4 separate regions of the Homo sapiens genome follow, and all the other regions are linked to region 1. The links come from fine-mapping of genetic effects on gene expression. A gene starts in region 1. Each other region holds a variant in brackets. All regions are shown on one strand. Distances are from middle to middle. Region 1 holds the start of TRAPPC9 (trafficking protein particle complex subunit 9). Region 2 overlaps TRAPPC9 (trafficking protein particle complex subunit 9). Region 3 overlaps TRAPPC9 (trafficking protein particle complex subunit 9). Region 4 overlaps TRAPPC9 (trafficking protein particle complex subunit 9).

What was found. PIP is the estimated chance that this variant, and not a neighbour inherited with it, causes the effect.
Region 2: its variant is the best candidate, but not a certain one, in a credible set for the expression of TRAPPC9 in whole blood (INTERVAL, PIP 0.65).
Region 3: its variant is the best candidate, but not a certain one, in a credible set for the expression of TRAPPC9 in skeletal muscle (GTEx, PIP 0.54).
Region 4: its variant is the best candidate, but not a certain one, in a credible set for the expression of TRAPPC9 in gastroesophageal junction (GTEx, PIP 0.74).

Annotation. Positions count from the first base shown.
Region 1 is chr8:140,455,491-140,460,490 of GRCh38, forward strand. TRAPPC9 (trafficking protein particle complex subunit 9) reads right to left here and starts at 2,254. Exons shown (of 23, transcript NM_001160372.4): 1 at 2,149-2,254. RefSeq lists silencers at 1,799-1,848, 1,959-2,348, 2,439-2,678, 2,799-3,108 and an enhancer at 2,508-3,026.
Region 2 is chr8:140,371,667-140,376,666 of GRCh38, forward strand. All of the region lies in intron 7 of TRAPPC9 (trafficking protein particle complex subunit 9), which reads right to left. Among named protein-coding and RNA genes, the nearest start is that of TRAPPC9, 84 kb to the right of the region's middle. The variant C/T (reference allele first, on the strand shown) is at 2,174.
Region 3 is chr8:140,407,497-140,412,496 of GRCh38, forward strand. All of the region lies in intron 5 of TRAPPC9 (trafficking protein particle complex subunit 9), which reads right to left. Among named protein-coding and RNA genes, the nearest start is that of TRAPPC9, 48 kb to the right of the region's middle. The variant C/T (reference allele first, on the strand shown) is at 2,004.
Region 4 is chr8:140,429,315-140,434,314 of GRCh38, forward strand. The region is part of intron 4 of TRAPPC9 (trafficking protein particle complex subunit 9); the gene reads right to left. Among named protein-coding and RNA genes, the nearest start is that of TRAPPC9, 26 kb to the right of the region's middle. The variant T/C (reference allele first, on the strand shown) is at 2,544.

The DNA.
Region 1 (5,000 bases):
CGCGATCTCGGCTCACTGCAAACTCCGCCTCCCAGGTTCAAGGGATTCTACTGCCTCAGCCTCCCAAGTAGCTGGGACTACAGGCGCCCACCACCATGCCCAGCTAATTTTTGTATTTTTAGTAGAGAGGGGGTTTCACCATGTTGGCCGGGATGGTCTCGATCTCTTGACCTCGTGATCTGCCCGCCTCGGCCTCCCAAAGTGCTGGGATTACAGGCGTGAGCCACCATGCCTGGCCAGGCACAGCATTATTCTTAATAGCTAAGGAGTGAAAACAACACAAATGTCCATCAACTGCCTGATACACAAAATGTTAAATCTATACAATGGAATATTATTCAGCCACAGAAAGGAACAAAGTGCTGATGTAAGCCACAACATGAATAACTTTAGAGCACTGTGCTGAATGAAAGAAGCTAAATACAAAAGGCCACATGTTGTATGATTCCATTAATAGGAAATGCCCTGAATATGCAAATCTATATATATCGAAAGTAAACCGGTGGCCGCCAGGGGCTGTCGGAGGGGGGAATGAGGAGTGACTGCTAATGGGTATGGAGTTTCTTTCTGGGGTGATGAAAATGTTCTGGAATGACAATGGTAACACAAGTGTGAATATACTAAAAATTACTGAATTGGCCAGGCATGGTGGCTCACGCCTGTAATCCCAGTACTTTGGGAGGCCAAGGCGGGTGGATCACGAGGTCAGGAGTTCGAGAGCAGCCTGGCCAACAGAGTGAAACCCCGTCTCTACTAAAAATACAAAAAAAATGTAGCCGGGCATGGTGGCAGGCACCTGTAATCCCAGCTACTCAGGAGGCTGAGGCAGGAGAATCGCTTGAACCCAGGAGGCGGAGGGTGCAGTGAGCCAAGATCGTGCCATTGCACTCCAGCCCAGGCGACAGTGCGAGACTCCGTCTCAAAAAAAAAAAAAAAAGAAAAATCACTGAATTGTACACTTTAAAGCAGTGGATTTTATGGCAGGTAATCGAGGCTCAATGAAGCTGTTATTTTTGACACACTAGATTTCTGAAACATTTATTGTTTACATGTTTCCGGACAACTGTTTTTCCCTCTACACTACTAGTCCTCCACACAATTAAAAAAACGAACAAACACACACAACAAAACCTAGCCAGATCTTTAGGACGGCAATGTTCCTGGGCCTCCAACATCATCCACCCGGTGCTTTGTTTCAGGTTAACAAATAAAGATGTCATAGGTAGCTATGACTACCTTAGAAACACGGGACAGTCACCAGTTTAAACTGGGGCCGTGAGGGATGGAAGGGAAGTCACTCCCCCATACCTTTCAACTGGGCCTTGCTTCCAGCGTTTTAATTCCTCTCTCTATAGAAACATTTGAAGACAGACAACGCATCCTAACACGGGAAAACTTTCGGTTAACAGACATTCACGTTGGGAAGGTCTGCAGGGGTGGAGGGGATTGGGGTGGGCTGACAGGGAGAAGACCACAGGCCAGTAGCCTGACTTCCTCTCCCCAGGGTTCCCTGGGATAAGTTGGAGTTGACAGCGCGCTTATCCCAGAGAGCACCGCCTGATGCCGCCCAGCTAGATCGCAGGCACTTTGAATCCAGGAGACAGGAGGGAAAGGGCTAGGGGAGAAGTCCGGGAACTCAGGGCGGGGAAAGCGCCGGGGGCGTGGGCTGTGCTGGGCCCCAGGCCCCAGCCGCGCGTCCCAGACCCCGCGGGCTCCAGTGGGCTTAGCCAGGCCCAGGGGCGGGGGGCTCCAGCGCCGCGGACGGCCCGGGAGGGGAAGCCAGGCGGAGACAGCTCGGAGGCACAGAGGGGAAGGGGACCCCCGCCGCGAGCTCGGGAGAGCAGAGCCGGCCCGGGCAGCAGGTGTGGGCCGGGTCCCGGACAGGTGTCCGCCGAGTCTTCAGCGGGTGTGGGACACGGCCTTGGACAGATGTAAGCAGAGCGCCAACAGGAGCAAGGGCGCCTCGAGCAGGTGCACGCTGAACCCCGGCCCGGCAGCGGACCCGGACAGGTGTGGCGGGCTCCGCCCGGACAGGTGAGGGCCGGGCGAGCCCCTCCGCGGGACGCGCCGACTCCACGGCCAGCCGCGCAGCCCTCCCCGCAGCCGGTCCGAATTGCCTGACCGGGAGCCCCCCCGCTTTGCACTTACACAGCCGGTGGCCCCGGGCCCGGAGCGGGAGCCCACGACCTGGCGGGCAGCGGGGCCGAGCAGCCTCTGCGGCCACTTCCCAGGCTCTGGGCTGGCGCTTCCTACTGGCGGCCGAGCCGGCGCTGCTCCTGCGCGTGCGCGGAGGCCAGGCCTGGGCCCCCGATCCGTCCCGGGTTTTGCAAGAGACGCGAGGGAAGCAAGGGGGTAGGAGCGAGGGAGAAAAGAGGAAGGAGGAGCGAGGGAGAGAAGAGGGGACAGGGAGGGAGGGGACATGGGGAGGGAGGAGGAGGAGGGAGGAGGGAGAGAAAAAGGTGGGGTGAAAGAAGGAGGGAGGAGGAGCGAGGGAGAGAAGCGGGGACGGGGAGGGAGGAGGAGGAGAGTAGGAGGAGGAGGGGTGAAAGAAGGAGGGAGGGGCAGCGAGAGAGAGAAGCGGGGGACAGGGAGAGGGTGGAGGAGGGAGGAGGGAGGGAAAAAGGAGGGGTGAAAGGAGGGAGGAAGAGGAGGAGGGAAGGAGGGAGATGGAGGGAGATGGAGCGAGGAGGGAGGGAGGGACCGGAGCAAGAGAACAGAGACTAGGAGGAAAGCTTCTGCACCTGGGGCGGCGCAGCTGGAAGGAGGCCCAGTTCTGTCCCCGCCGCTTACCAGTCCTTCAGGGCGCGCAGCTCAAATTTCACTTCCTCTGTGAAGCTCAGGGGTGGAGGCCCCGCGGAAGCCCACTGTGGATCCCTGCGGCACCCCCTGTGACCCTCACGGTACCCCCCGTGACTCCCACGGTCGTGCCCCCCACGTGGGTGGGTGACCGTGGCGCGCGCGGCCTGGGAGCGCCTCCAGGATCGCAGGGCCCGGGAGGCACGTGAGGTGCGAGCCCCAGCCTGGGCCGGCTTCCCCCTGTGTGGCGCGCGGTCTTGATCCCCAGCTGGCACCATGGCACTCCCGACTTTGAGGGCCCCAACAATCCATCCACATAAAAGGTTCCAAAGAGGCGACAGGGGCTAGGACAGCTGTCGTTAGTTCAGTGCCAAGGCGCCAAGCTTGCTAAGTGCGGGCAGAAGCCATTTAAGGATTTAAACCCCTCTGGGTTCAAAAATAAAATAAAATAAAGCAGGAGATGGGGGAGGCTTACAGACTTAAGATGCCCAGCACATGAATTAACAGTGGCATCCGCAGGGAAAATTGAAAACAGAGAGCCGCTCTCCGTTATGTATGTTTAATGTTCTGTTTGAATCTTTTAACATGTACATGTATTTCTTTTTCAATTAAAAAATCCTGGCCAGGAGAAATGGCTCACACCTGTAATCCCAACACTTTGGGAGACTGAGGCGGGTGGATCACTTGAGGTTAGGAGTTCAAGACCAGCCTGGCCAACATGGTGAAACCCCGTCTCTACTAAAAATACAAAATTAGCCAGATGTGGTGGCGCGCGCCTGTAATCCCAGCTACTCAGCAGGCTGAGGCAGGAGAATCGCTTGAACCTGGAAGACAGAGGTTTCAGTGAGCCGAGATCATGCGATTGCACTCCAGCCTGGGCAACAACTGCAAAACTCTATCTCAAACAACAACAACAACAAACACTAAAAAGGGCTGGGTGTGGTGGCTCACACCTGTAATCTCAGCACTTCGGGAAGCCAAGGCGGGTGGATCACCTGAGGTCAGGAGTTCAAGATCATCCTGGGCAACATGGTGAAACTCCAGTCTCCACTAAAAATACAAAAATTAGTTGAGCGTGGTGGTACATGCCTGTAATCCCAGCTACTAGGCAGTCTGAGGCAGGAGAATCTCTTGAACCCGGGAGGCGGGGGCTGCAGTAAACCAAGATCACACCACTGCACTCCAGCCTGGGTGACAGAGAGAGCCCATCTCAAAAAAAAAAAAAAAAAAAATCCTAAAATGGAAAAGTAAAGAGGACAGGAGTGGTTTTCTCAGCACATACAGCAGCAAGGGAGAAATGGTCTGAGCCAGCATTTTTCCTTTCAGCCAGCAGGCACTTACCCGCTCTGGGCTATGTGACCAGGGCTGTTTTATTATCACATGTGTTATAAAATAAGATACTATCCCTCATCCCTGCTCAGGGCTAGTGGAAAACCAATTGAGTTTTTATTGAATTATTTTCTACAGAGTCAGAATGAGTTATAAATAAAACATATCTTCAGGGCAAAACAAATAGAGCTGATTTCCAGCCTGCCAGACAGCCAGGAAGTTTTCAACAGAGGTGCCCAGGGGCTGAGGAAGAGTGTCTCCCTGACAACGCACAAGCTGCCCAACGTGGCTACCTCATGGTGTTACGACCGCATGGAGGCCGTGCAGTGGCTCACAGCTGTAATCCCAGCACTTTGGGAGGCCGAAGCAGACGGATTGCTTGAGCCCAGGAGTTTAAGACCAGCCTGGGCAACACAGGGAAACTCTGTCTCTTGGAAAAAATACCAAAATTAGCTGGGCAGGATGGCACAAACCTGTAGCCACAGCTACTCAGGAGACTGAGGCAAGAGGATCGCTTGAGTCCAGCCAGGTCGAGGCTGCAGTAAACCATGATCACTCTAGCCTGGGAGAGACAGCAAGACCCTGTCTCAAAAAAAAAGTGGTTTTTTTTATTTTTTTTAAATGAATAAATAAACAAAAGAGCGTATGGGCTTAACAGAGAATACAGAAAAGATACATTTAAAAGGCCACTGCTAATGGAGGTCTGAGTGCAGAAACTAGGCTCCAAGCTTACCTCATAAGATCCAAGCAAGGGAGCTATTTTTAGTGCTGAAGTCCAGAAAGGATACCCTACTTGGCTGGGGTCACACAAATGGCTGGTGCTATTTAGGGATTCAAATCCAGGGCTGTCAGACCCCACAGACTCTACTTTTTGC
Region 2 (5,000 bases), 84 kb before region 1:
CCCAACAACCCTGTAGTGTAGCAATCATAACTTCTGTTTCTTTTCTTTTTTTTTTGAGACGGAGTCTCACTCTGTCACTCAGGCTGGAGTGCAGTGGTACGATCTTGGCTCACTGCAACCTCCACCTCCCGGGTTCAAGAGATTCTCCTGCCTCATCCTCCAGTGTAGCTGAGATTACAAGCACCCACCCCCATGCTGGCTAATTTTTGTACTTTCAGTAGAGACGGGATTTCACCATGTTAACCAGGCTGGTCTCGAACTCCTGACCTCAGGTGATCTGCCTGCCTCAGTCTCCCAAAGTGCTGGGATTACAGGTGTGAGCCACCACGCCCAGCCAACAACTTCTGTTTCTTCAGCACCTACTGTATGGCAGCAGACTTAACGTACCTGATTTACTCAATACAAGCATCCTGTGAGCTGGCAAATAAGGACATTAACAGCTCAGGGACACATTAATCACCTGTGCAAAATCACACAGCCAAGAAGTATCAGGGACAAGACCTGACTCTGGGCCTGGGCCCTGCCCACTGCACAGCGCCTTCAGAGAAGAAGGAAGGCAGAGCCCACTCTGCTGCTCCAGGAGCACTGTTAAGGAAGCGCTTCTCTCCCTCCTCTGCCCTGGACGATGAATGTTTCCCTGATGTTTCTGTGAGTACAGAGCCTTAGCTTGAACGCCCTTCCAACTTGGGCCTCCAAACCCTCCCTCCATCCCCTCTCCTCCGCGCTCACTGCCATGGCCTCGATGGGGCCCTCGTCAGCCCTCATCTGGAAGAGGAATCGGCATTGTCTTCCTACCACCTCTCGACCTTCCTTCACCTGTCCACACACCCCTGCCAGACTTAGGTTCCTGAGACATGGCTCAGAGCCCATCACCCGAGCCACGGTTTGAATGTTTGTGCCTCCCCAAAATTCACATGTTGAAAGCCTAGCCCCCAAGGTGATGGAATTAGGAGGTGGGGACTTTAAAAAGTGATTGGGTCAGGGGGTGAAGCACTCACAAATGGAATTAGTGCCCTTATAAGAAGAGACCCTAAAGAGCTAGCTCACCTGTTGCACCATGTGAGAACACAGAGAAAAGACGGCGGTCTATGAACAAGCAAGTGGGCCCTCCCCAGACACCAAACATGCTGGCACCTGGATCATGGACTTCTAGCCTCTAGAACTGTGCACAATACATTTCTATTGTTTATCAGCCACCCAGTCTGTGGCATTTTGTGACAGCAGCCTCACCGGACTAAGACAATCCCCATCTTGAAACCACTAGACCCCTTCAGGACTGTAAAATGGAGCCCAAATGCCTTCACGGGCATGCCAGGCCCTCCTCAGCCCCAACCTGCTCTGGAAATTCGAGGCCCCACTGCCTACCTATGACCTCACCAGACTGAACAACTTTAACTCATTTGTTTTCTCATTCTGTCAACACATATTTACTGAACCCCTACTCTGGTGCCAGCCACTCTTGTGGCAGAGGATACAGCAGTGAGCAAAACAAGCTAAGACTCCTACCCCTGGGGGCCTCCATGCTAATGACAGGCTAGTCCCCTGGCTTAGAATCAGTGGGGAGGATGACAATAAATCAATGAAAAAATAAACAAAATAGCTGCTCTAAGTCCAATGAAATACTCTTTGACATAGAATCATGGGTGGAAGCGTATGAGGCAGGCTGTACTAGGTGACGCCGCCGGGGCACACAGGCTCTCTGCTCCTGCAATGCCTCCACAGCCACATCTGGCTCTCCCTTTGGACACTCGGTTCCAATGCCACCCTCTCCAAGAAGCTGGTCCTCATGCCCTTCAGCGGGAAGCTGCTGCTTCTTTCCCTAAATTCTCCTAACCATGCTGGACTCCATAATGTCCTTTCTCTGTGTCTCCCACACAATTTACCTACATATCGGATCTCTGCCAGCCCCACTTTTCCTACAGTGAAAGGTCATGCCGACGCCGACGATGTGTGAGAATCCCTGTTGCTCCACCTGCTCACCAGCATATGAGGATATCACCTGCTCACCAGCATATGAGGATATCACCTGCTCACCAGCATATGAGGATATCAGTCTTTTTTATTTTAGACGTTGTGGTGGCTTTAACTTCCATTTCCCTGAAAACTAATGATGTTGAACCTTTTTCATATGATCACTGGCCACTGGTATATCTTCCTTTGTGAAGCGCTTGTT[C/T]AAATCTTCTGACAGTTTTTAAAATTAGATCGTTTGTTTTATTACTGAGTCGTACGAGTTCTGTATATATTCTGAATGCAAGTCCTTAGTTATATGTGTTTTGCAAATATTTCCTCCCGGTCTGTTGCCGATTTATTTCCCTAAGGGAGTGTTCATAAGCAAAAGCATTTCTCTGTGATGTAGCTCAATCTATCAGCTTTTTCTTCTATGGTTAGTGCCTTCTATGTCCTCATCTGAGAAAAATCTTTGCCCGAGGTCACAAAGATATCCTATGTTTTCATCTAGAAGTTGTTGTCTAGGTCTATGGTCCGTGAATATTCAAATTTGAGTAGGACATGGCCTGTCCCTTTCCAGGAGTGTGCAGTACAGCAGCGAACAGAAGCCCCAGTGCTGGAGGACAGCAGCCAGGGACGGGGTGGAAGAGGACTGTAAAGAGGAGGCAGGGGTTGGCCGGGCGCAGTGGCGCACACCTGTAATCCCAGCACTTTGGGAGGCCGAGGCAGGCAGATCACCTGAGGTTGGGAGTTCGAGACCAGCCTGACCAACATGGAGAAACCCCGTCTCTACTAAAAAATACAAAATTAGCCAGGCGTGGTGGTGCATACCTGTAATCCCAGCTACTTGAGAGGCTGAAGCAGAAGAATTGCTTGAACCCAGGAGGCGGAGGTTGCAGTGAGCCAAGATTGTGCCATTACACTCCAGCCTGGGCAACAAGAGTGAAACTCCATGTCAAAAAAAAAAAGAAAAGAAAAGAAAAAAAGAAAAAGAAGAGGTGGGGGTACTTAACGCCTTCATCACAAATCTGGAAATGCCCAGACCTTCAGCTGCACCCACTATGTGCCAGACATGATCAAAGATGTTGGGGCAGAGAAGGGGGCAGAGAAGACGAATACTGATCTTAGCCAGTGCCTGTAAAGAGGTCACCATCTAAAATAAAGGTGACAGCCGGGGAAGGTCACATGCCTTGGCCACCAATGCGTTAGAACTCCCATTGATTCTTTCATGGAACCTATCTAAGATGAAAGGTTGTAAATAATACTATGATCAGTAATAATATTACTTCATTCCTCTTATCATTTCAGTGTAATAAGAAGTCAAATGATAAATACTACATTGCAAATGGAATTGACATCACTTTAAAGCCCTAAAACGGTTCCTTAATGGGAAAAGCTCGAGCGCAACTGCTTTTGGGCACTAGGCAGACAATTGACTGAGAAGCCATGAGCCCAGAGAGCCTCAGGACAAAGCCATGTTTGGTCGACACAGGCACCTATGGCACAAGGAGCCGGGGAGTACAAAATGGTCCCTGGCAAAGCTAGGCCAAGATCCTCAGGAAATCTTGAAATGAGATGAAATCCCCAAACTCATTTCCAACCTGCTGCTCTTTTAGGGCATATTAATCAGCACATCTTTGTTCTAATCTTTCAATAGGCTGCACAGTCACGAAGTCCAAGTTCAGGGCCCAGATGTTTATGTGAGGTTCCAACGAAAGTGGCTCCAAGACTACTCAAGACAAGGAGCTTTATTCACAAGGCAGACTCTGAGGGATCCAAATATTAACTCACCATTCCATTTCCAAGTAGAAAGTAAGTTTAGACCTGCTTTATTCTGTTAATAAGAAATAAAGTGACAAGATCAGAGGGAAACTCCAGACACAGGACTTGTCTCTGGCAGGATGGAGAGGGAGGAATACAGCCTGGAGCTGTAAAGTCCTGAGTTCCAGGGCCACATCTGCATATCCCTAAGAAACAGGGATCATCAAATCTAATTACGATTGTCAAAAAGACTCAATGAAATAATGCAAACACTGAGCATAAGCCTAAAACTCTCAGTGAGTGTTCAAGAAACAGAAATATCACTGTTAGTTAATGCCTTTGACACCACAAGTTCTAACCCCAAGTTAACCAGCCACTGATGCTCTAGAAAATGCCTTAACCCTCATCAGCCTTCTCAAACGTGGGCACTTGCAGTGATCAGAAGAACAAGTCAGTGACAGATGTGTAGGGGCAGCCTGGTGGCCGCACTCAACTAAATGATGACCGTGGGAGAATGCCGGATGGGAAACAGCAGGCCCCACACATTCCCAGGTTTGAAAACACACTCTGCTCCTCTCTCCGGCTATTTCCAGCCATAATTACATGGAGAGAAAATACATCTTCAAAATTATACAAACTTTCCATATATGTCTATCAAAAAAGTTTGTTAAAAACATAACCTACTTTCTCATATCCCGGAGTAGGGGTATGAGGCATGCACCAAGGATTTTCCTTTATAAAGCATCTGTCTAAAGTAATTGGATCCATTTTCAGTTTTAATCATTCAAAAGTAAGAATGAAAACAAAGCAAAACAAAACAAAAACTTCAATAAGACCTGGTCCCTCAAAACTTCATGAAGTAGTAGAGGAGATAGGTCCATAAAGAATCACAGTGTTGGAGGCCGGGCGCGGTGGCTCACGCCTGTAATCCTAGCACTTTGGGAGGATGAGGTGGGCAGATCACAAGGTCAGGAGATCAGGATCATCCTGGCCAACACAGTGAAACCCCGTCTCTACTAAAAATACAAAAAATTAGCCAGGCGTGGTGGCAGGCACCTGTAGTCCCAGCTACTTGGGAGGCTGAGGCAGGAGAATGGCGTGAACTTGGGAGACGGAACTTGCAGTGAGCCGGGATTGCGCCACTGCACTCTAGCCTGGGCACAGAGCAAGACTCCATCTAAAAAAAAAAAAAAAAAAAAAAAAAGAATCACAGTGTTGAGGCCAGGCAACGTGGCTCATGCCGATAATCTCAGCACTTTGGGAGGCTAAGGCAGGCAGATTACCTGAGGTCA
Region 3 (5,000 bases), 48 kb before region 1:
TGATCAAAGCATAAGAGGGAAATCCCCCCGACGGAGAAGGAACAAGTGCTCCCTCCACCTTTTAAAGAAAGGGCATCTCCAGTCATGAGGGCTAATTTGATCAACTTAATTTCTTTTTTCTTTGAAACAGAGTCTCTCTCTCTGTCACCCAGGCTGGAGTGCAGTGGTACTGGAGTGCAGTGGCACGATCTCAGCTCGCTACAACCCCCCTCCTCGCTACAATCAAGTGATTCTCCTGCCTCAGCCTCCCAAGTAGCTGGGATGACAGGCACCCACCAGCAAGCCCCACTAATTTTTGTATTTTTAGTAGAGATGGGGTTTCACCATGTTAGCCAAGCTGGTCTTGAACTCCTGACCTCAAGCGATCTGTCCAACTCGACCTCCCAAAGTGCTAGAATTACAGGTGTGAGCCACTGCGTCTAGCTGATAAACTTAATTTCAACATCAAGGCTAGAGGAAAAATTTCTATGTGGAGCAACCAAGAAAAATATAAACCATAGGAAAATAACAAGAGCATCGCTCCCAAGAGAGCTTAGTGGGTCAGACCAATTTAATTTCATTCAACAAAAGACTAATAAGTTCTAGAAACACTAGTAAGCCATAGATTTGATCTTTCTTGACATCTGTAAAGTTGTGACAGCCCGTATGAGATGTCATCATGAACTAGTGGACCAGAGCCATCAAGACCCATAGCCTGTAGATTACAGGCAGGAAAATCAATGCCACAGGAGGCTAAGACCCAGATGGGAGGAGAGACAAAGAAAGAGCATGGATGAGAAGTCACGGGGAGGGGGGAAGGTTGAAAAAGGCACCACCAAAAAGGTTCTCAAGTATCAGCCCAACAATGCTTTCATCATTCACTAAAGAGATAGGTACTGAGCTGCTACCACACAAGACTGTATACAAGGCACAAAACTGGAAACCCAGACATACACATAAGATAAAGCAAAAAAAAGAAGGAAGACAGCAGAGATGGATGCCGCTTGAGAAAGGTTTGCCTTTCTCTCCTAGAGAGAAGCACAAAAAGGGCTTAGATACACCAAGAACCAGTGTGGCAATAATTTCAGCAATGGCTAACAGGCTAGCACCAGCCTGGGTCACTAACATCTGCTGTCCAACTACAAAGCAAAAACCCTGCTACGTGGGCACTGTAGGCTTTATTTTGCAGAGGAATGGCAGGAAGACAAGGCATCCATAAGCCACAGGGTGGGATCGAGTCCTCCAGCACCAGGACACAGTGCCTGGAATCACTGGGGCCAAGATGGACTTTTTAATAATGGTCTGGGACACCTGAGTGGCCATTTGGAAAAAAAAAAAAAAAAAATCAAACCCACACCTCACAGGAGACACAAGAGTAAACTCCAAATGGATCTGAGATCTGAATGTAAAACAGAAAACCATAGTTCAAAAAACACAGGTAAATTCCTCTAAAACCTGGACAAAGGAAAAGGCTCTCTATCACACAAACCTAAACGCAATAAAAGACTAATATATTCAACCACATAAAAACTCAGCAAAATTACTATAAACACAGCAAAACATAAATGATAATCTGATTTAAAAATATATGCAACATATATCACAAACGGCTAATTCCACATACATCAAGGTCACAAAAGTTGAAAAAGAAAAACACAACTAAAAATCCAACAGAAAAAAAAAATGGCCAAAAGATTTGGGCAGATAATTCATAAAAGAAAAACATAAAAATGACCCTTAAGCATTTAAAAAGATATTCAACTTCATTAATGGTAAGAGATGCCATTTGTCACGTATCTAGTTGGCAAAAATGTTAAAAGCCTGACAACACACAGTGTTGGTGTATATATGTAGAAAACACTCGCATGCACTGCTACTGTGAGTGCGAATGATGCGGCCTTTATGAAGAAGACTTTGGCAGGATCTAGTAACACTACATTTATGTTTACTTTTTGACCCAGTAATTCCACTTCTAGGAATTTACACTGAAGACACACCTTCAACAGTACAGAAACATACCTATG[C/T]AATGTGATTTGCTGATATATTATCTGTAACTCCCAAACACTGGAAACAATCAAACATCCACATGCAGAAGAGTGGTGAAATAAAACCCGGTACCTGCACACTTAGTGTGCCACGCAGCTGTGAAAGTGGATGAGAAAGATCTCCATAAGCTGATATGGACTGATCTCCAGGATACATTAGCAACCAAAATAGAACAAAAAACACCAAGTACAAAAGAATATATGTAATATCTTACCTTTTGCACAAGAAAAAGAATTAAGAACATTAATGTGTTTATTTAAAAAATAAGAAGAAGAAAAGGCCAGGAACAAATGATATAAGGGTAGGGAAATGAGGTGGAAAGAATAGGAGAGGCGCTGGGCGCAGTGGCTCACACCTATAACCCCAGCACTTTGGGAGGCCAAGGAAGGCTCCTGGGTTGAGCCCAAGAGTTCAAGACTAGCCTGATCAACGTGGCAAAATCCCATCTCCACAAAAAAACACATGAAAATTAGCCAGGCATGGTGGCACACGCCTGTGATTCCCAGCTACTTGGGAGGCTGAGGCAGGAGGACTGCTTGAGCCCAGAAGGCCAAGGCTGCAGTGAGCTGTGATCATGCCACTGCACTCCAGCCTGGGTGAGGGCATGAGACCTTGTCTCCAAAAAAAAAAAAAAAAAAAAAAAAAAAATAGGAGAGGAAGTGGCACTTCTCTGGGTAACCCTTTTTATATAGTTTTGATTTTTGGAATCATATTAACATTTTATATAGATTTGACCAGGCGCAATGGCTCATGCCTGTAAGCCCTGCCCTTTAGGAGGCTGCGGCAGACAGATCGCCTGAGGCCAGGAGTTCAAGACCAGCCTGGCCAACATGGTAAAACCCCAGCTCTATTAAAAATACAAAATTTAGCCAGACATGGTGGCATGCGCCTGTAGTCCCAACTACTCAGGAGGCTGAGGCACAAGAATTGCTTCAACCCGGGAAGCAGAGATTGCAGTGAGCCAAGATCATGCCACTGCACTCCAGCCTGGGCAACAGAGCAAGACTCCATCTCAAAAATAAAACAACAACAAAAAAAAAGGCCGGGCGCAGTGGCTCACGCCTGTAATCCCAGCACTTCGGAAGGCCGAGGCGGGCGGACCACAAGGTCAGGAGATCAAAACCATCCTGGCTAACATGGTGAAACTCCATCTCTACTAAAAATACAAAAAATTAGCCAGGCGTGGTGGCGGGCACCTGTAGTCCCAGCTACTCGGGAGGCTGAGGCAGGAGAATGGCGTGAACACAGGAGGCAGAGCTTGCAGTGAGCTGAGACTGTACCACTGCATTCTAGCCTGGGTGACAGAGCGAGACTGTCTCAAAAAAAAAAAAAATTATATAGATTTAGAAATATAAAACAGCAACTCAAAGAACTGTAAAAATAAAAAAAGGAAAAAAGATTTTAAAAATCAGCAAAGATGGGGAAACTCATTAATGATATATAAACAGCAATAATTACATTTCAAATAACATAATCACACTGACAGGAAGCATTAAAGGACAAATTCAAGTAACCTCTGACTGCAGCACCCTGTGTATTTATCCTTGGTATCATGACCAAGGATAAATAACCAAAAGAACCACAACCAATCCTTGAACTCTAACTCTAGGTACGGGTTTTGTTAGTTAGTTAGTATGAACTTGACATAACAGTAGAACTTCTCAAAGGGCCTAGAATCAATGAACCTTAGGAGCAATGAGCATGCTTAGTGACCAGACCTTGGTTTCTAAATACCACTTTCCAACAAAAGAAACTAAAACTCCTTAGAAAAACGTCCGATTCCAGAGCTGGAACAGGGAAAGTACAAAATGAACCTAAAATATCTTTCTATGTTTTTGAGATGGAGTCTCATTCTTGTCGCCCAGGCTGGAGTGCAGTGGCGAAATCTTGGCTCACTGCAACCTCCGCCTCCCAGGTTCCAGCGATTCTCCTGCCTCAGCCTCCCAAGTAGCTGGGACTACAGGCACCCACCACCACGCTCAGCTAATTTTTGTATTTTTAGTAGAGACGGGGTTTTGCCATGTTGGCCAGGCTGGTCTTGAACTCCTGACTTCAGGTGATCTGCCTGCCTCAAATTCCCAAAGTGCTGGGATTACAGGTATGAGCCACCGTGCCCGGCCTGAACCTAAAATATCTTGAGCCTGAAAGTAAACATATGTTCAATAACTGATTGAGGAACATGTCAAAAGGTTTTAAGAATCAGCTTGAAGAGCTTCCATTGGCCAAATCTAGCCAATGAGCTACAAAATAAAGAATAATAGCAATGGATTAGAACCTACTAAAAAAATAATGATCCATAAGTCCATAACAATAAGTGGATGGATGGAAAGAAAGAAGGAGAAAAGAAAAAAAAAGCTCCTGCTTATAGTAAAATGCGAATAAACACATAAGGAATGATGAAGCAAGAAAATCGCCATTTGGCAGCCAGCACAGTAATAACTGACTCAGGTGAAACTCTTCACTGAATCAGCCAGAACCAGTGGGTGAAAGTGTGATGACAAACAAGATGTATACAGTCTCAAACTATTTCCCACAAATTACTTATTATTTACATCGAGAAAAATAGTAACTTTACAGTGGAAAACTCCATCAGACTCCACTTTAACCAATTATCAAAGTTAGCCTCACCAGTAATGGGACAAATGAACCTCATGTGCCTCTGATTTAATGCATGATGGATCACTTGACCCCTCCTTCTGCCCTGCCAAAATGCAAAACCTCATAATCAAAAAGCAACTTCAGGCAAACACAAAGTGAGAACATTCCACAAAATAAATGGCCTGCATTCTTCAGAAATATCAATTATCATGAAAAACGAAGATAGGCTGAGACGATACTAAGTGCCATAAACACTAAATGCCGTGTGTGATCCTGGACTGGATCCCGCATCAGGAAATAGAACTGCTGTATTGGAACAGCTGGTGGAATGCAAATAAGGTCTGGGGGGTAGATAAAGGTATTGAATGCATCAACGT
Region 4 (5,000 bases), 26 kb before region 1:
CTCCTGACCTCGTGATCTGCCCACCGTGGCCTCCCAGTGCTGGGATTACAGGTGTGAGCCACTGCACCTGGCCAACTGCCAGGATTTAAATCCCAGCTCTGCCACTTACTAGCTCCATAACCTTGGTCAAGTTCCTCAACCTGTCTATGCCTCAGTTTCCACATCTGTAAAACTGGGATAATAATCCAACCTACCTTATCTGGTTGTTGTGAAGATTAAAGGGTTAAATTGGTGTATATAAAATGTGTGTAGAGGCCGAGGTGGGTGGATCACTTGAGGTCAGGAGTTTGCGACCAGCCTGGCCAACATGGTGAACCCACATCTCTACTAAAAATACGAAAATTAGCTGGTCATGGTGGTGCACACCTGTAATCCCAGCTACTGGGGAGGCTGAGGCACGAGAATTGCTTGAACCCGGGAGGCAGCGGTTGCAGTGAGCCAAGATTGTGCCATTGCACTCCAGCCTGGCAACAGAGTGAGACTCTATCTCAAAAAAATAAAAATAAATAAAATGTGTGTAGCACATTTTAAATGTTCAACAGATGTTATCAGCCAGGTGTGGTGGCTCACGCCTGTAATTCCAGCACTTTGGGAGGCCGAGGTGGGCAGATCACCTGATGTCAGGAGTTCGAGACCAGCTTGGCCAACATAGCGAAACCGTGTCTCCACTAAACATACAAAAATTAGCTGGGCGAGGTGGCAGGCGCCTGTAATCCCAGCTACTTGGGAGGCTGAGGCAGGAGAATCACTCGAACCCGGGACGCAGAGGTTGCAGTGAGCCGAGATCACGACATTGCACTCCAGCCTGGATGACAGAGTGAGACTCCATCCCAAAAAAAAAAAAAAAATGTTATCTGTTACAGTGATTTTACAAATGTCCCTTCTAATCATCCTTTGTATTTCCTTACTAGTCTAAATAGCAAAGGATATCCTTATTTCTGTGTTACAAAGAAAGAACTGTCACCCCATGACCTATTTAAACTGAGGGGGAAGATGGCACTTGCTCTTCACTCCTCTGGTTTCCATAATAAAGGCTTTGTCCTAAGCACCACTGACCTCTTGCCCACCCCCATTCCTCCCCCACCCAAGTGGAGTGAGGTGTAAGATGAGTTTGGGAGACAAGCTGGGCATGTGAACCCCTTCTTTTGCCCTTGGGTGCTGCACTCAGGAAGCACACGGGATGTTCTGCTCCGCCATGCCTATGGCTGACAGGGAGAGGGCCCCTCGTAGGAAGGTCTGCTGTGGCCCAGAGCCACCAGATCTTGGACACACAGTAGTAGGATGCCCATTTTTCTGCATCCCTCAAGTTCATGGAAAATGTGGGGGTTGTTTTTTGTTTTTTAAGACAAGGTCTTGCCCTGTAGCCCAGGCTGGAGTGCAGTGGCAGAATCTCAGCTCACTGCAACCTCTGCCTCCTGGGCTCAAGCAATCCTCCCAACTCAGCCTCTTGAGTAGCTGGGACTACAGGCACGCGCCAACATCCCAGGCTAATTTTTTGTATTTTTTGTAGAGATAGGATTTCACCATGTTGCCCAGGCTGGTCTCAAATTCCTGGGCTCAAGCGATCCATGCACTGTGGCCTCCCAAAGTGCTAGGATTACAGGTGTGAGCCACCATGCCCGGCAGAGAATGTGGTTTCATCACTAATAAGGGCGGAATTTTTATTCTCTACCTTACTCTTGTCTCGTCTCTCAGTTGGTTGTTGAAGAAAACAGGGGTGTTTTTATTGGGCCCCTTTAAGCCCCAACATATACTAATCCACAAATAATTCTGTGGCTTGGGTAGGTCAAGATGGCTACATAACGGCCATGTCTCTAAACCTGCAGCTAAATTATGGGTATAAGAACTACTGACCCTCCTCGCCGGGCGCGGTGGCTCACGCCTGTAATCCCAGCACTTTGGGAGGCCAAGGCAGGCGGATCACCTGAGGTCAGGAGTTCAAGACCAGCCTGGCCAACATGGTGAAACCCCGTCTCTACTAAAAATATAAAAACTAGCCGGGCGTAGTGGTGGGTGCCTGTAATCCCAGCTACTCGGGAGGCTGAGGCAGGAGAATTGCTTGAACCCAGGAGACAGAGGTTGCAGTGAGCTACTGCACTCCGGCCTCGGCGACAGAGTGAGACTCTGTCTCAAAAAAAAAAATAAAAATAAAAACTACTGACCCACCTCAAATATTTCCTTCATTTCCTGAGTCTCTCTTCACGAAAACATTTTTCCTATTTCAATGCCTTAGTAATTTCCAAACACTATAAAATGATGACTTCATATAAAATAATAGCTAATGGTCGTGAGATATTTTATGAGATGACTGCCACGCTAAACATTTTGCACACATTCTCTCTAATTCTCACAATTCTACAAAGCAGAAATTAGGAGCCCCTGCTCATAGATGCAGAGCGAGGAGGTGGGGGGCACCTGAGAAAGAACTGTAGGACTTGCATTCAGACACAAGCCAGCTGAACGAGGCTTTTCCATGACACCACAACACCACCCACTAGCAAACATGCAAAACTGGGTGCAATACTCAGGGAGTTCCAGATTCT[T/C]TTCAGCTTTAAGGTGCTCCAGACAGTTTCTATCTCTTTTATAAATCATGGCTGACTGCCTTCTGACATTGGAAGAAAAGTCCAATTTCACCACTGTCCACATTGCACATCTGAAATTTTCATGCTGAAATGACATAATAAAAATAACTAGAATACTTTTCCAGGTATCCAAATATAATGGGCATAGTGCTATTCTAAAGCATTAAACAACAACAACAGCAAAATTCAAATGAAGGAAGCCTTGTCTAAGTCTTCTTTCACCAACAGGGAAATTAGGACATTAAAAATATATGTGTACAACAGCGCCACCTATGGCCAGAAAGGTCTTTCCAGGTTGCTGAAAAAAAAAGGTAACAAATTTAATTGTTGGCATAATAAGAAATGATCAACAGGGCTTTTTAAAATACGATGCTCAGAGACCATAACTAAAAGTGTAACTAGCACATACTGAAATCTGCTTCAAGGAAGGGAACAGTATTCAGTATTTAATCCAAAAACTTTAACACCCCTAAATATAAACAGAAGACACAGGCTCATAGAAACTAATCTTAGAACAGGAAGAAAACTCGAGCATCTGGCCCACTCTCTTCATTCTACAGGTAGTGAGGTTGAGACCCAGAGAATTTGTTCTTCTAGCAATCAGTGGCAAAGCTTTCTCCTAGTCCTTGGATTTTGCACTATACCAAAAGCCACCTTAATCTATACCAACCCTATAATCATAAAAGTCACGTCTGGCCGGGCACAGTGGCTCACGCCTGTAATCCCAGCACTTTGGGAGGCCGAGGCGGGCAGATCATGAAGTCAGGAGATCGATACCATCCTGGCTAACACGGTGAAATCCTGTCTCTACTAAAAATACAAAAAATTAGCCAGGCGTGGTGGCGGACGCCTGTAGTCCCAGCTACTCGGGAGGCTGAGGCAGGAGAATGACGTGAACCCGGGAGGCGGAGGTTGCAGTGAGCCGAGATCGCGCCACTGCACTCCAGCCTGGGCAACAGAGCAAGACTCTGTATCAAAAAAAAAAAAAGTCATGTCTCTATATTTCAGTCAGTAAATAGCCTAAGTGTCTTACAAAAAAATACTTCCCAAAGGACTGCCAACTATTAATCATACAATTTTGTTGAAATACAAACACATTTATTTATATATTAAAACAGCATAATCGGCCAAGCACAGTGCTCACACCTGTAATCCCAGCACTTTGGGAGGCCGAAGCGGGTGGATCACTTGAGTCAGGAGTTGGAGACTAGCCTGGCCAACATGGCGAAACCTCGTCTCTACAAAAATTAGCTGGGCATGGTAGCACACACTTGTAATCCTGTTACTCAGGAGGCTGAGACACAAGAATCACTTGAGCCCGGGAGGCAGAGGTTATAGTGAGCCGAGATCATGCTGCTGCACTTCAGCCTGGGCAACAGAGCAAGACTCTGTCTCAAAAAACAACACACAGGCCAGGAGCGGTGGCTCACACCTGTAATCCCAACACTTTGGGAGGCCGAGGCAGGCAGATCACTTATGGTCTGGAGTTCAAGACCAGCCTGGCCAACATGGTGAAACCGCATCTCTACTGAAATTTACAAAAATTAGCCAGGTGTGGTGACGGGCACCTGTAATCCCAGCTACTCGGGAGGCTGAGGCAGGAGAACCACTAAAACCCAAGAAGTAGAAGTTGCAGTGAGCCGAGATTGAGCCACTGCACTCCAGCCCAGGTGACAGAGCGAGACTCTGTCTCAAAAAACAACAACAACAACAACAAAAACACACATAATCTATTCAACAATGTCCCCTTGTAGTCAATCTATAAAGGAAAAGTAACTGATGTCAAATCAACGTTTTTACTTTTCTCATCTATTACAGATACAGGAAAAAAATCAAAATTTTCTCAATCACAAAAAAGATAAGCCTGAGGCAGAAGAATAGGATCTAGAGGCAAAGAACTTAAGGTTGTTTCACACAGACTTCCTACAACTACATTGAAAGGAAAACCCTAACTTTCCATGACTAAGTAACAAAAGGACCAGAGGCTGCTCCCTTTGACCTTTTCTGCATGGCAGGTGGGAAACTGGCTGTCCGGAACCACTCAGACTGATTGCTGGTGGAGTCTTAGTTTGCAGAGAAGTATAACTTTGTCTACTTTTCATTTGCATAGAAGCATAACTTTGTAACTTCACCTTAGCCTCTGAGTGGCTGCTTTCCGCAACCAATCAGACTAACTGCAGGCTACCACTTCATTTACAAGAGGTGAGCATGAAGTGGCCAATGGGAAACTTCTAGTGGGTATTTAGACCCAAGAAGATTCTGTATCCGTGCCCTTGAGCCCGCTGCTCGGCCCACTCCCACACTGTGGAGTGTACTTTCGTTTTCAATAAATCCCTGCTTTCATTATTTTGTTGCTTCCTTCTTTGTGACCTATGCAACATGATGACTAAATCCTGAGCCATTAAAGGCAGGTTCATT